Linked DNA regions of Homo sapiens. The protein of the gene in region 1 purifies or fractionates together with the protein of each later gene. This does not show direct contact. Each region holds a gene or a part of one and is shown on either strand. Other genes may lie near its edges.

Evidence for each region. The genes of interacting proteins can lie anywhere in the genome.
Region 2: the proteins of ZNF544 (region 1) and GNPAT purify together in Homo sapiens (affinity purification with mass spectrometry; 2 studies listed by BioGRID and IntAct, with this or other methods). This does not show direct contact.

What each region holds. Positions count from the first base shown.
Region 1 is NC_000019.10:58,245,887-58,252,913, reverse strand, and holds part of ZNF544 (zinc finger protein 544), read right to left. Parts: intron 6,614-7,027; coding exon 6,487-6,613; intron 6,204-6,486; coding exon 6,120-6,203; coding exon of another isoform or gene 6,082-6,119; exon of another isoform or gene 5,873-6,081; intron 5,633-5,872; coding exon of another isoform or gene 5,487-5,632; exon of another isoform or gene 1,759-5,486; intron 1-1,758. UniProt on the Homo sapiens protein: May be involved in transcriptional regulation.
Region 2 is NC_000001.11:231,244,202-231,251,228, forward strand, and holds part of GNPAT (dihydroxyacetone phosphate acyltransferase), read left to right. Parts: intron 1-6,759; coding exon 6,760-6,942; intron 6,943-7,027. UniProt on the Homo sapiens protein: Dihydroxyacetonephosphate acyltransferase catalyzing the first step in the biosynthesis of plasmalogens, a subset of phospholipids that differ from other glycerolipids by having an alkyl chain attached through a vinyl ether linkage at the sn-1 position of the glycerol backbone, and which unique physical properties have an impact on various aspects of cell signaling and membrane biology.

The DNA of each region.
Region 1 (7,027 bases):
AGGGAGTCAGAGGTTGCAGTGAGCCGAGATTGTGCCACTGCACTCTAGCCTGGTGACAGAGCAAGACTCCGTCTCAAAAACATAATGATAATAAGTAAATAAAAAGGAAGGATTATGATACGGGGAAATATGTTTCTAAAAGTTGTGGAATTCTTCTCATCTATAAAATGCTCATATCTAATAGTTCAGGATTTCTTGCTTTTTAGGGTTTCACTAAAATTTAAGGTTACTAAGGATAAGAATTCTAGTTAACAAATGATTCTGTATACAAAAGGTGCCAAAAAAGATGTGCTATTGGTAAGAAAGAAATGATTTTGTGTAGTTCAGAGGTTGTCTAAAGGTTGATTCAGGTTGTTGACTTAAAAAAAAGGGTTATTTATGAAACAAGGTAGTAAGAAACCAGTAAGTACGGGAGAGAGAGGTGAAGAAAGTTATGTATATGAAGATGTATTCTTGGTAGGGAAGGATGTAGCAATAATAATTTTGTATGAGACAGGATCCTGTATGGTAAATTCTTGCCCTAAAGTTAAATGAATGGTTGTTTAAAGAGGGATGTTTAGGACAAGTCAGAAAGTCCAGGCATGTCATAGAAGGTCTGTGTAAGTCGTGAAAAGGATTCATGTAAAAAAAGTAGAATGTACTTTTGGTAAAAGGCATGAGAATATGGATTTCTTGCCAAAGTTTGGAGGGTTAAAAGACAAGCTGTAGAAGGTTTATGAAAAATTAATTGTAGAAGGGATTCTGTGTGTGAATATATTGGCTAAAGTTAAAGGGGAAGACTGGCAATTAGACCTCACTGATATGCCAGCTTGCAAAGGATAAAAGTTTCTGCCAGTACTAACAGACACCTTTATTGGCTGGGTTGAAGTGTACCCTACCAGAACAGAGAAGTTTAATGAAGTTATAAAGGTTCTCTTAAAGGAAATAATCCCCTGGTTTGGGTTACCTCAAAGCCTCCAAAGTGATAACAGCCCATCTTTTGTCTCCCAAATAACTCAAGGGGTTGCTAAGGTTCTCAGAATCAACTATTATTTACATTCAGCATGGAGACCTCAATCCTCCAAAAAAGTGGAAAGAGCTTAGCTAACTCTAAAATAGGAGTTCCTATGTCAGGAAACATCAGAAACTTGGATCTGCTTACTGCCCATAGCCCTCTTAAGAATCCATAATTCCCCTAGAGAAAAAATTATTATGAGCCCACACAAATGTTATACAAAAGGCCATTTTTAACTAATGATCTAATCTCTGATCCAGAAACATCCAGTTTAGTAAAATACCTAGTTAACCTGGGATTATTTCAGCAGGCTTTACAAGAGTTTGGAACTCAAAAGCTCCCCACACCAGGAACTAACCACCAACCCAAAATCAGGCCAACAGACAAGGTACCTGTTAAAACATAGAAGGAGGGATCACCTGCTCAATAATTACAATCAAAGTGGAAGGGACCATTTTCAGTACTGGCCATGCCTTCTGGGGTCAAAGTACTAGGATTAGATAGTTGGATACATCTTTCTGGTGTCAAGCCTGTGTTATGTGAAGTCCCAGACCGGGAACCTGAAGCTCCCATCAGCCACTACACCTGTGACTTGTGAAAGACCTGAAGTACCTGTTTAAAAGACAGCCAAAAGATAAGTAAAAGCCTACCAACTTTCCTTGGTGTCTTTGTTGCTTAGTTACTTTAAACTGGATAATAGTAGCCATTGTTATACTTCTACAATTTAATTGCTTTCTTCTAAACAAATGGAATAACTTCCTTTGTAATAATTAAGCAAAGTGTTTTAATTAATTCTTATAACAAGCATTCCTGACAGCATAGGTATCCACCCCTGAAGTTCCTATTCTATAGCACAAAATAACAAATAAGTATTTTTTGGTTCCATAATGGTCACCCACAGCCTGTGTATACAGGACCACGCATAATGGGAATCAGCTTTATTTTACAACAGAGCTTCACTTTACCCCTCCAGCAGTTAATGGATTCTGGGTATTTATTAAAAACTTTACATTTAACTCAAAGACAGTTAAATACCACCAGCCCAGCTCTGGCAAAGACTGTTGGCTTTGGTTATCTCCAGCATCATTCAAATACACTACCACCCCAATCCCAGCCCAATCTTTGGCCTTGGGGAAAAAAACATGAACTACGATGACAGGACAAGCAGTAAACCTTCTCCAGTACTATCAGAGTACCCTTTCTGGGGTTGCATCCCACAGAAACCCATTTGGGGCCCAATATCAATGTACACAGAGCTAAAATTCCAGGTGCCACTTTGTATTAAGAGAAGCCAAAATTTTGGTCAGGCCCTGGGAACCTTGAAAAGTCATCAGTGTAACTACACCCTAGAGATTATTAACCCCTCACATGATTACATAAGCTAGGCAGTTACCCAGACTGTGTCATTTAGAAAACCTGTATGGTTTTCATGGAAACCATCCCTAGATAAGGACACTTCAAAGGATACACAGTCTAAGTACTGCCAAGGTAAGCCCACTAGCTATGATCATATTTTCCCTTGGGAAGACTGCACTAATCCTCAGACATCTAGTTATCTTTTGGTTCCCCAGTACGAAACACCTCTGGATGCTTGTTGGTAGACACTAAGCCTAATTACCTCCAATGGGAAAACAGAACTGCTGGGGCAACTCAGAATATTTCCCAAGGTCCTTTCCAGCCTTTAACTGGGGCCACCTTCATAGGGACCTTAACCACTTGGGAAAGTGAAAACAACAAGCTAACCCACATGTTTACCATAGAAAATTCTTGTCTTGAAAAACTAGGAGCCTTTTACCTGTGTGGAACTAGTTCTTACTTATGTTTACCAGCCAATTGGACTAGAACCTTTACACTTGTTTATTTAGCCTGTGAAATTAATATAGCTCCCAAGAACCAATCCCTCATTATACCTTTAACTGCAATTGCCAGACACAAATGAACCATCCAACTCACATCCCTTTTGGTAGGACTACAAATAACCGCGGGACTGGGAATGGGAGTCAGCCGGGTTGTAACATCCCTATCCTATTACCAATGCTTTTCCAAGGATTTTATGGAAAGCTTGAATGACATTGCCCAAAGTAAAAAAGAAAAAATAGAGACATTGGCCAAAGTATCATCACCATACGAAATCAAATAGATGCCTCAGCAGCAGTTGCTTGGCAAAACAGAAGGGGATGAGATCTCCTAACTGCTGTAAAGGGGGGCTTAGGTCTTTTTCTAGAGGAAGAATGCTGTTTTTATGCCGAACAATGAGGATTAGTAACAAATGCCACCCAAAAACTACCCAACTGGGCCTCTAAAATACAACAACAGCTATCTGAGTCATGGGGCTCCTGGTCAAAAATGCTAAGTTGGGGTTCATGGCTCCTTCCTCTGGCCAGCCCATTAGTAATGACTATACTTGCCTTGGTTTTTGGACCATGTTTGTTAAACTCTTAACCAAATTCATTTCCTGTCACCTAGAGACCATCAAGCTTCAGATGATCATGTGACAATGTTTCCAGCCAGTTCCAGGTGGAGACACCACCCCTGGCCATCAAGAAGCTATCCTGTCTCCACTAGACAGGGCGGGGAGAGAGTCCTGTGATTCCCCAGTACGTAGGGACTGTGCCTCAGGTCAGCATAAAGCAGTTACAGAAGAAAGACTATCAATCCCTTTACCTCCCATAAAGATTTATGAGGATCATGTCTTTCGGGGGGAAATGAGGTATGAGAACAGGGTATGGAGGCAAGAAACCTAAGGGTGATTAATGCTGACTTCCTGGAACTGAATCAAAAGGAAAACCCAAACTTTCCATGCCCCAAATAACAAAAGGATCAGAGGCAACCCCCGCCTTCTGTGTCGCAGATGAAAAATGGAAAGTACCTCTTCCTGCAACCAATGAGACTGGTCACTGGCCTAGTTTTCATCTGCATAGAGGTGTAACTTTGTAACTTCACTTCAGCCTCTGTTGGTCACCTTCCCCAACCAATCAGACTAGTTATGGGCCACTACTTCATTTACAGAGGATATAAACCAAGTAACCAATGGGAAACCTCTCGGGATTTAAACCCCAGAAAATTCTGTAACCAGTGCTCTTGAGCTGCTTGCTCCAGACCACTCCCATTGTGTGGAGTGTACTTTCATTTTGATAAATCTATGCTTTTTTTGCTTCATTCTTTCATTGTTTTATGCATTTTGTCCAATTCTTTGTTCAAAATGCCAAGAACCTGCACATCCTCCACCAGTAACACCAGGGGCTGGGGATGAGGGAGGGATGAATGGGTAGAGCACAGAGAATATTTAGGGTAGTGGAACTACTCTGTCTGATACTATAATGGTGGATACATGACATTGTACATTTGTCCAAATGCACAGAATATACAACATCAGGAGTGAAGCCTGGCCAGGTGCAGTGGCTCATACATGTAATCCCAGCACTTTGGGAGGCTGAGGTGGGAGGATCACTTGAGCCCAGGAGTTCAAGACAAGCCTGGGCAACACAGTGACACTCCATCTCTACAAAAAATTTTTACATTAGCCAGGCATGGTGGTGCATGCTGTGGCACCTGAGGCTGGGGTGCAGAGAGGTGGGAGGATCACTTAAGCCCAGAAGGCTTAAGCTATGACTGCATCACTGTCTCAAAAAAAAAAAAAAAAAAAGAAAAAAAAAAGCATGAACCCTATCATAAACTATGGACTTTGGGTGATAATGATGCCTCAAGGGCAAGGGGTAGTGGCTCACGCCTGTAATCCCAGCACTTTGGGAGGCTGAGGGGGGCGCATCATGAGGTCAGGAGATCGAGACCATCCTGGCCAACATGGTGAAACTCTGACTCTACTAAAAATACAAAAATTAGCTGGGCGTGGTGGTGCGTGCCTGTAGTCCCAGTTAGTTGGGAGGTTGAGGCAGGAAAATCACTTGAACCTGGGGGGCGGAGGTTGCAGTGAGCTGAGATCACACCACTGTACGCCAGCCTGGTGACAGAGTGAGACTCTGTCTGGGAAAAAAAAAAAGGATGCCTCAAGATAGGTTTGCCGATTGTAACAGATGTACAATACAAATCCAAGTTGTTAACAGCAGGAGACACTGCATGTGTCTGTAGGACAGCAGACATGGGTGGGAACTCTGCACTTTCTCGTCAACTTACCTATAAACCTAAAACTGCTCTAAAAAATAAAGTCTATTAGCCTGGGCAACATGATGAAACCCTATCTCCATTAAAAATACAAAAATTAATGGCCAGGTGCAGTGGCTCATACCTGTAATCCCGGCACTTTGGGAGGCTGAGGCAGGTGGATCACCTGAGGTCGGGAGTTCGAGACCAGCCTGACCAACATGGAGAAACCCCACCTCTAATAAAAATACAAAATTAGGGCCAGGCGTGATGGCTCACACCTGTAATCTCAGCACTTTGGGAGGCTGAGGCGGGCGGATCATGAGGTCAGGAGATCAAGACCATCCTGGCTAACACGGTGAAACTCTGTCTCCACTAAAAATACAAAAAATTAGCCGGGCATGGTGGACATGCCTGTAATCCCAGCTACTTGGGAGGCTGAGGCAGGAGAATCACTTGAACCTGGGAGGTGGAGGTTGTGGTGAGCCGAGATTGTGCCATTGCACTCCAGTCTGGGCAACAAGAGCGAAACTCCGTCTTAAAAAACAAAAACAAAAACAAAAGAATTAGCCAGGTGTGGCAGTGTGCACCTGTAGTCCAAGCTACTAGGGAGGCTGACGCATGAGAATTGCTTGAGCCAGGGAGATGGGGGCTATAGTGAGCCAAGACAGCGCCACTGCACTTCAGCCTGGGCAACAGAGTAAAACCCTATCTCAAAATAAATAAATAAATACATACATTAATTAAAAAAAAACAAATCAAGTAAAGAGGCCTAAATGGTTGGGATGATGAACATGTTCTAGAACTGATTGTGGTGAGGGTTCCACACTCAGGGAAGACACTGGAAGCCATGAACTGCATACTTCGAATTGGTGAACTCCTTTGAATGGGTGAACTGCTGCAAAGAGCACCCAAGGAGGCTTCCTCCAAACAAGGCTCCCTCCTTGGCCCCTGGGGCCCTGCGGAGAGCTCTCTGTCCAAGCTTGTTAAACGTTGAGCTGCTCACCACAAGGTCTGCTCTTACCTCGGGGGGCCTCCTGCTCTGCCCTGCACAGGTCCTCTTCTTGCTCCAGCTGAGAGATCACATCAGATTTGGAAAGGAAAAGCCCTGGTCAAAGACGGAAAAAGGACTTGCCCCTCTGCTTGGACACCAAGAACCATGTCCTGGGTCCAAGCTTCAGCCCCTAGTGCTGTCCCGAGGAAACTCCCCACTGTTAGGACTACAAGTCACAAACCTGTCCCAGAGATAGAATGAAGGGCAACCCCTGGGAACTGCACCTGAAAGGGACCTGCTTCCAGTATCTTCCAGCACATCCCAGAACACCCTTCAGAACTTGGTACAGCTTTGAGTCCTAGGGGTAGAACCTCCTTCCATGAGCACAGCCACTTACCCAGGGAGACAATATGCTCCCAGGTCTCCAGTGTCACCTCTCGGTACAGTGTCCTCTGGGCCAGGTCCAGCTGTTCCCACTCCTCCTGTGTGAATGCCATAGCCACATCCTCGAAGCACACAGATGCCTGAAACAGGGCACTTGTTACTGCTCAGAGACCCCAGGTCCTCATGCCCTCACGGAGGTACCTGTTAAGGCCTAAATGTTGGTGTCCCCCCGTAAAATTCATACATTGGAACCTAATACCCAGTGAGATAGTGTTAAGAGGTGGGGTCTTTACAAGGCAATTAATGTCCTCATAAAAGAGGCTTGAGGGAGCCTGTGTTCACCTTCTACCATATGAGGACATGTAAGAGGTGCCATCTATGAGACAGCAGGCCCCAACCAGACCAACTCTGTTGACACATTGATCTTGGACTTACCAGCCTCCAGAACTATGAGCAGTCAATTCTGTTGTTTGTAAATTGCTCACTCTAAGGTATCTTATTATAGCAACCCAAACGGACTGGGACAGCTCCATGTATGTGGTCTGTACCATTCC
Region 2 (7,027 bases), on another chromosome or scaffold:
ACTATAGGTTTCTGGTGTGATTATCTGTATAGGTAACCTGTTTTGCCTAAGTAGAGACTGTAGGAAGAGAATCAGGTTGGGTAGGGAATCTGATGCATAAAAGTGGAGATCAGTTAGAATGCTATTGCAGTAATCCAGAGAAGTAATGAAGCAGTAACAGTGAGCCCAGGAAGAAGGGAAATTGATGAATTTATGTGATATTTAGGACAGTAAATCATCATCCTTTGGAACCATTTGAATGTGGTGGCTAAGGAAAATAGCATAGTCTGAAGTTCACTGTTGGGTTTCTATGATTTGGCAACTGGGCAGATGATGATGCCTTTCATTGATAAGAAATATGGGGAGAGGAGCAGGTTTGGTCAGGGTAATAGAATTCAGTTTGGGGTGTGTTCAGTTTGTGATGTAAGAGAGAAATATAATGATTTTTAACTTGTGGATTATCATGTTATGAGCCAGATACATTCCATAGTGTTTGGAAGAGATCCAAGTAGGGTTAGAAATATGGTGCCAGAGCAAGAGAGGGGGTCTGGCCTAAATGTATAGATTTTTCAGCATGTAGGTTGTATCTATAGCATTCGGTGAGCCTGAAATCATTCAGTGAGACCCTAGAATGAAAAGAAGACTGAGGATGGGTAACCACTGGTGTGCCATAATCCAGATGATGACTTCCTGTTAAAGTCCAAGTGAAAGATGCAGATGCCTTACTACAGTGTCCCACAAGACTGTACATGATCTCTTAACTGCTATTGCTCTGACTTTACTAATCTTCTTGTTCACTGGGCTTTAGCCACCCTGGCCTTCTGTTTCTCAGACAGTAAAATGCTCTTCCCTCGAATGCTCATAGTCCCTTCTGTGTGGCATGCTATGTTTTCTCAGAAGTTTTATTGCTGGCTCTTTGTATTATTGAGGTCCCAACTCAAATATCACTTCCTCAGAGAGGCCTTCCACAACCATTGAATCTAAAACAGCTATCCAATCACTATTCCTCATTTTCCTCATTAGTTGCCTAATTTTCTTTTTTTGTTGTTGTTAATTTTTGGCTTTTTAATTAATTATTTTTAGAGCCAGGATCTTGCTCTGTCACCTAGAGTGGAGTGCAGTGGCATAGTCATAGCTCACTGTGACCTCCAACTCTTGAGCTCAAGTGATCCTCCCTCCTCAGCCTCCCAGTAGCTAGGACTGTAGGCGCATACCACCACGCCTGACTGGTTTTTTTTTTTATTTTGTGTAGAGACAGGGCCTCACTATGTTGCCAACCTGGTCTCAAACTTCTGGTCTCAAACGATTGATCCTCTTGCCTTGGCCTCCCAGATCACTGGGATTACAGAGTGAGCCACCATGCCCTGACCGCAGCTTTATTTTCCTTATATTCTCTTTCCAGTGGTGTGCTACAGCAGTCTTCTATTGGCTTGCAAGAGCTGATTGTTAAATTTTCATGAAGTTTGTGAGCCCATTCTTAAAACACAGCCATTATTAAAAATTAAATAGCCGGGCGCTGTGGCTTACGCCTGTAATCCCAGCACTTTGGGAGGCCAAAGCAGGCGGATCACCTGAGGTCGGGAGCTCGCGACCAGCCTGACCAACATCGAGAAACCCCGTCTCTACTAAAAACACAAAATTAGCTGGGCATGGTGGCACATGCCTGTAATCCCAGCTACTCGGGAGGCTGAGGCAGGAGAATCGCTTGAACCCGGGAGGTGGAAGTTGCAGTGAGCCGAGATTGCGCCATTGCACTCCAGCCTGGGCAACAAGAGTGAAACTCTGTCTCAAAAAAAAAAATTAAATATTAAATTATGTAAATTTACGATTAAATCCTGTTTTTAAAAAAGGTAATAAATACTGATAACTTAACATTTTCTCATTATTGTACTATTACCTGTGCTCTTGAGATTATTTGTCTATCGTGCTGGAAGGTGGAGATCCTGTATCCTGTATAACTGTGTGCTACTGCTCATTTCTCCCCAGCTTTGCGTTTGCTGGGGTCAGATTGGAAGCTTTAAATCTGCCCTGGTGGGAGCGTATATCCCACAAAAATTGACAAATGCTATAACTCAGAGCTCTCCCATATCAAGCGTTAAATGGTTAAACATTGACCAACATACTACTGGTGGTATCACTAAATGAATTTACCTTGTTTATTTGTTGTCTGTCTTTCCATAAGGACACGTAGGCTCTCAGTGCAGTCCCTGCCTGCCTTGTTCATGCTGTATTCACAGCCTGTAAAACAGTGCCTGGTACACTGTGAGCTCTCAGTCACTATCTGTTGAATGAGTGGATCCTCCAGAGCAGTTAAAAGGGAGGTATAAGAAAGGCCTATTTCACTAGCAGTAGGGAGAGGCCTGCTCTACTAAGTAAGATGGGGGAGAGATAGTTCCCCTAAGGCTTACTTGGGTTCTTCTTTGTGTTATGTTCCTGAGTGAGTAGCCATGTAAATTTACTTACTTAATGATAGTAAAAACTTCTCAAGCATGGTATAGGGAAGGCCAATTAATGAGCAGGAACACTCAACCCTAGCTGCACATAGGAATCACTTGGAGTATTTTTAAAAAGAATTTGGACAGCTGAGCAGCACTCACAGACCAAATTAATCAGAAATCTCTACAGGTGGAACCTGGATATCAGTATTTATTTTGAAGTGCCCCCAGGTTATTTTAATGTGCAGCCTGAGTTTAAAACCACTGGATTCGGCCGGGCGCGTTGGCTCACGCCTGTAATCCCAGCACTTTGGGAGGCCTAGGCAGGTGGATCACGAGGTCAGGAGATCCAGACCATCCTGGCTAACACGGTGAAACCTCGTCTCTACTATAAATACAAAAAATTAGCCGGGCATGGTGGCGGGCGCCTGTAGTCCCAGCCGCTCGGCAGGCTGAGGCAGAATGGCGTGAACCCGGGAGGCGGAGCTTGCAGTGAGCTGAGATCGTGCCACTGCACTCCAGCCTGGGCAACAGAGAGAGACTCCATCTCAAAAAAAAAAACCACTGGATTCGACATCGGGTAAGGGCCAGAATGGGGAGATTTGAGCCTTATACTGTGAATACTGAGGAGCCATCATCGATAGGGTTCAAAAAGTGACTTCATTCTGTAATTTATTTTTTCATTCTACAGTGGCTTGAGTTCATACTAGAAACTGGGAGTACAGAAATGTATAGGACACCTTATCTACCAGATAAGAAGTTCACAGTCTTGTAAGGGAGGCACCAAATACGAGTTTAATGAAGTGTTTTAGAGACCATCTTGAAAATCCGATTATTGAGGGTTCAGTGAAGACTGAAAGGAAAGGATGACCTGTTCAATCTAGGTAAAGGGGAGAACCAGAATATGGGACACAGAAGAGGTAAACACAAGCTCTGGTTGATGGCTAAATATTTCCCAGGTGAACAGTGCGGAAGGAGCATTTGTAAATGCCCCTCTCAATAACTGGTACCACCATCCACCTTGTTCTTCATAAAAGAGACTGTCTCTCTCTTGATCACCACTATATCCTCAGCACATACCACAGTGTCAAGCACATAGGCATTCAGATATTTGAGAATGAATGCTATTCTGTAGAGGGAGCAACTTGAATCAGAGATCTGGGAACACGTAGTGTGTTTAGGGAACTGCAGGTCTTGGCATAGCTGGACTATTGGATTAAGAGGAATGGTCATGAGGCAGGAGGTGGGGGGTCATGAAGAGCCTGGGGTCATATGCTAAGACAGGTGGACTTGATGTAAGTCCACCTTGCAAGTAACAGAACCACGGAAGGATTGTAGATGATCGTATTTGGCAAGCTTTTTCAAAGTATACATGCCTGCTAGTTTCCCTTAGGGGTTCTTATCCTGAAGACTCCCTCGCTCCCATACATGTCTGTGTTTATATATGTACAGTTGACCTTTGAACAACGTGGGAGTTGGGGGCACCAACCCTCTGCACAGTCGAAAATTCACAATAACTCTTGACTCTCCAAAAGTTTCATTAGTAGTAACCTACTGTTGACCTAGCTGATAACATAAGCAATTCATTAAGGCTTATTTTATATGTTATGTGTATTATGTACTGTATTCTTAATAAAGTATGCTAGAGAAAAGAAAATGTTACTAAGAAAATCATAAGAGAAAATATATTTACTATTCATCAAGTGGGAGTGGATCGTCATTAATCCACTTCATCCTCATCACTTCACATCGAGTAGGCTGAGGAGGAGGAGGAAGAGGAGGGGTTGGATTTGCCCTCTCAGGAGTGGCAGAAGCAGAAAATCCTCATATAGGCCAGGCGTGGTGGTTCACGCCTGTAATCCAGCGCTTTGGGAGGCCAAGGTGGGAAGATAATTTGAGCTCAGGAGTTTCAGACCAGCTTGGGCAACATAGCAAGACCCCCGTCTCTATTGAAAAAAAAAAAAACTTAAATGTAAAAATCCTCATGTAAGTAGACCTGTGCAGTTCAAATGTGTGTTGTTTAAGGGTCAGCTATATATACGTATAAACACACACACAAACACACACAGAGTCACATGATGCATAACAACGTTTTAGTCAGTATATGATGGTGGTCCCATAAGATTATAATATCGTATTTTTGCTGTATCTTTTTTGTGTTTATATGTGTAAATTTGTACCATTGTGTTACAATCACTTATAGCATTCAGTACAGTAACATGCTGTACAGGTTTGTAGCCTAGGAGCAATAGGCTAACCACTATACTATATATAGCCTAGGTATGTAGTAGGCTATACCATCTGAGTTTGTGTAAACACACTCTGTGATGTTTGTACAATGATGAAATTGCCTACCAATGCATTTCTCAGAGTGTATCTCTGTTGTTAAACAGTGCATGACTGTATATGTGTATACATATATCCCCAGCTGATTCTGATCCTTTTCTCCTTCCACTCCCAGGACCACTAAATGGGAAGTTCTTGTTTTTAAGCCCTAAAATGATATAATGGTAGTTGGCTGCAGTCTATAGAGCGCAAACTGATACAACTATATATTTATTAATGAGAAATGTGGGATTTGAGAAGGTTTTCCAGCCTTATAAGCAAGAGTATTTATTACAAGGGTTGCAACTTTACATGAGAACTCCAACAGTGAAAAGACCTTTCCTTCATATAGTCTCTCTATATATGGACATAAAAATGTTCATGTTTGTATGTTTCACCTGCCACCCTTTTATAAACTCCTCATAAATGCTATTTGCTGCCACTTATATTCTTATGCCAAATTGTGGTCTCAGTTAACATTCTGTATTTTCTTCTATTACCTCAACATTTCATCTTTCAGTTATTGAGTTCAGTTATTGACCAATTATGCTATATTCCAAATAAAACCAGATGTTGGAAATACAAAGAGAAAATGAACTTTCCTACCTTCGAGATAATTTCATTTTAGTAGGGAGACAGACATGCATACAATTACAGTGTTGTGGGATACATACCATAATAGGTGTAGTTAGTGGGAAAAGAAGTGACAGGGAAAATATGAATGATTCCATTCGGGACTCTGGGAGAGCTTTCATAGAGGAGTGGTGCCTAAGCCTCTAAAGCATTTAGAATGCGCCTAACACTTTAGTGTCAGCACATATGACAAGTGTCCTGACTCTTTGTAAGCAGTTATACGTGTTAGCTTTAATTATTATCATTACTACTACTTTTGTAATCAGAAAAGTACTTTTTAAAAAATTAACAAATCAGAAGTCATTGGTAGACGTGTAAAGAGCAGTTTCAGGGGCTGGTTGGATAGAAGCTGAATGGCAGGGGCTGAATAAGAAATAAAAAATTTGTCACAGGCCAGGCACAATAGCTCACACCTGTAATCCCAGCACTTTGGGAGACCAAGGTGGGAGGATTGCTTGAGCCAGGAGTTTGAGACCAGCCTGGGCAACAGAGCAAGACTGTACCTCTTTATTATTATTATTATTATTATTATTATTTTATTTTGTAGAGATGGGGTCTTGCTATGTTGCCCAGGCTGGTCTTGAATGCCCGGCTTCAAGCAATCCTGCTTGAAGTGTGGAGGATTGAGATTAGCCTCCCAAAGTGCTGGAATTACAGGCATGAGCCACCATGCCCAGCCAAGACTGTCTCTACAAAAAAAATTAAGAATTAACTGGGCTTGGTGGTATGCACTTGTAATCCTAGCTACTCGAGAGGCTGAGGCAGGAGGGAGGATTGCTTTAGGAGTTCAAGGCTGTAGTGAGCTATATAATGGTGGCACTGTACTCCAGCCTGAGCAAGAGAATAAGCTCTTGTCTCGAAAAGAAGAAAAGAAAGTTATCACAGCCATATACTGCTCAACAGTACCTTTTATTGGAGCGCTTGTTTCTTGAATGATTTTTCCTTTTATTTGCACCCATATAGTTTTGTTTTATTTTATATAATTTGGGTTTCAAATGTTTGTTTTAATGTAATTTTTAAAGCTAAGTAGAGGCAAATGGAACAGGTTTGTCAGTGTGGCAGGTGAAACCATGTGAAGTTGATCAGATTACTCTAGGGCTTAATGTCTCATCTTTGCTGTCTTCATTAAATTTCCCAAAGAGATACTGACAATGATAGCAATCAGAAATATAATAAAATATTATGATAACTCAGTATCAATTTATTGATCCTAATTTTCTTTACATCTCTTTTTTTTACTATATGAAAATCTAACATCAGAACACTCTGCTCCTGTTCACGTCATAGAGTAATATTTTGTCAAAGATGAAACCTTACCAATGTAGTCTTTAATCTGTCCTGATTTATTTTACAGTATGTGCTCATTACTTTCTTGCCTTATCCACAGAAGGAGCTCAAAAAGTGGGATGAGTTTGAAGATATTTTAGAAGAGAGGAGGCATGTCAGTGACTTGAAATTTGCAATGAAATGCTACACACCTCTTGTCTATAAGGGAATTACTCCATGTAAACCAATTGATATTAAATGTAGTGTTCTCAATTCTGAGGAGATTCATTATGTCATTAAACAGGTAAGTGATTCCCTCTTCAACCATGGCCAGATTTGTTCATTGTCAACAAGTTCTTAATTCTATAACTTATTTTGCTACTTTAATA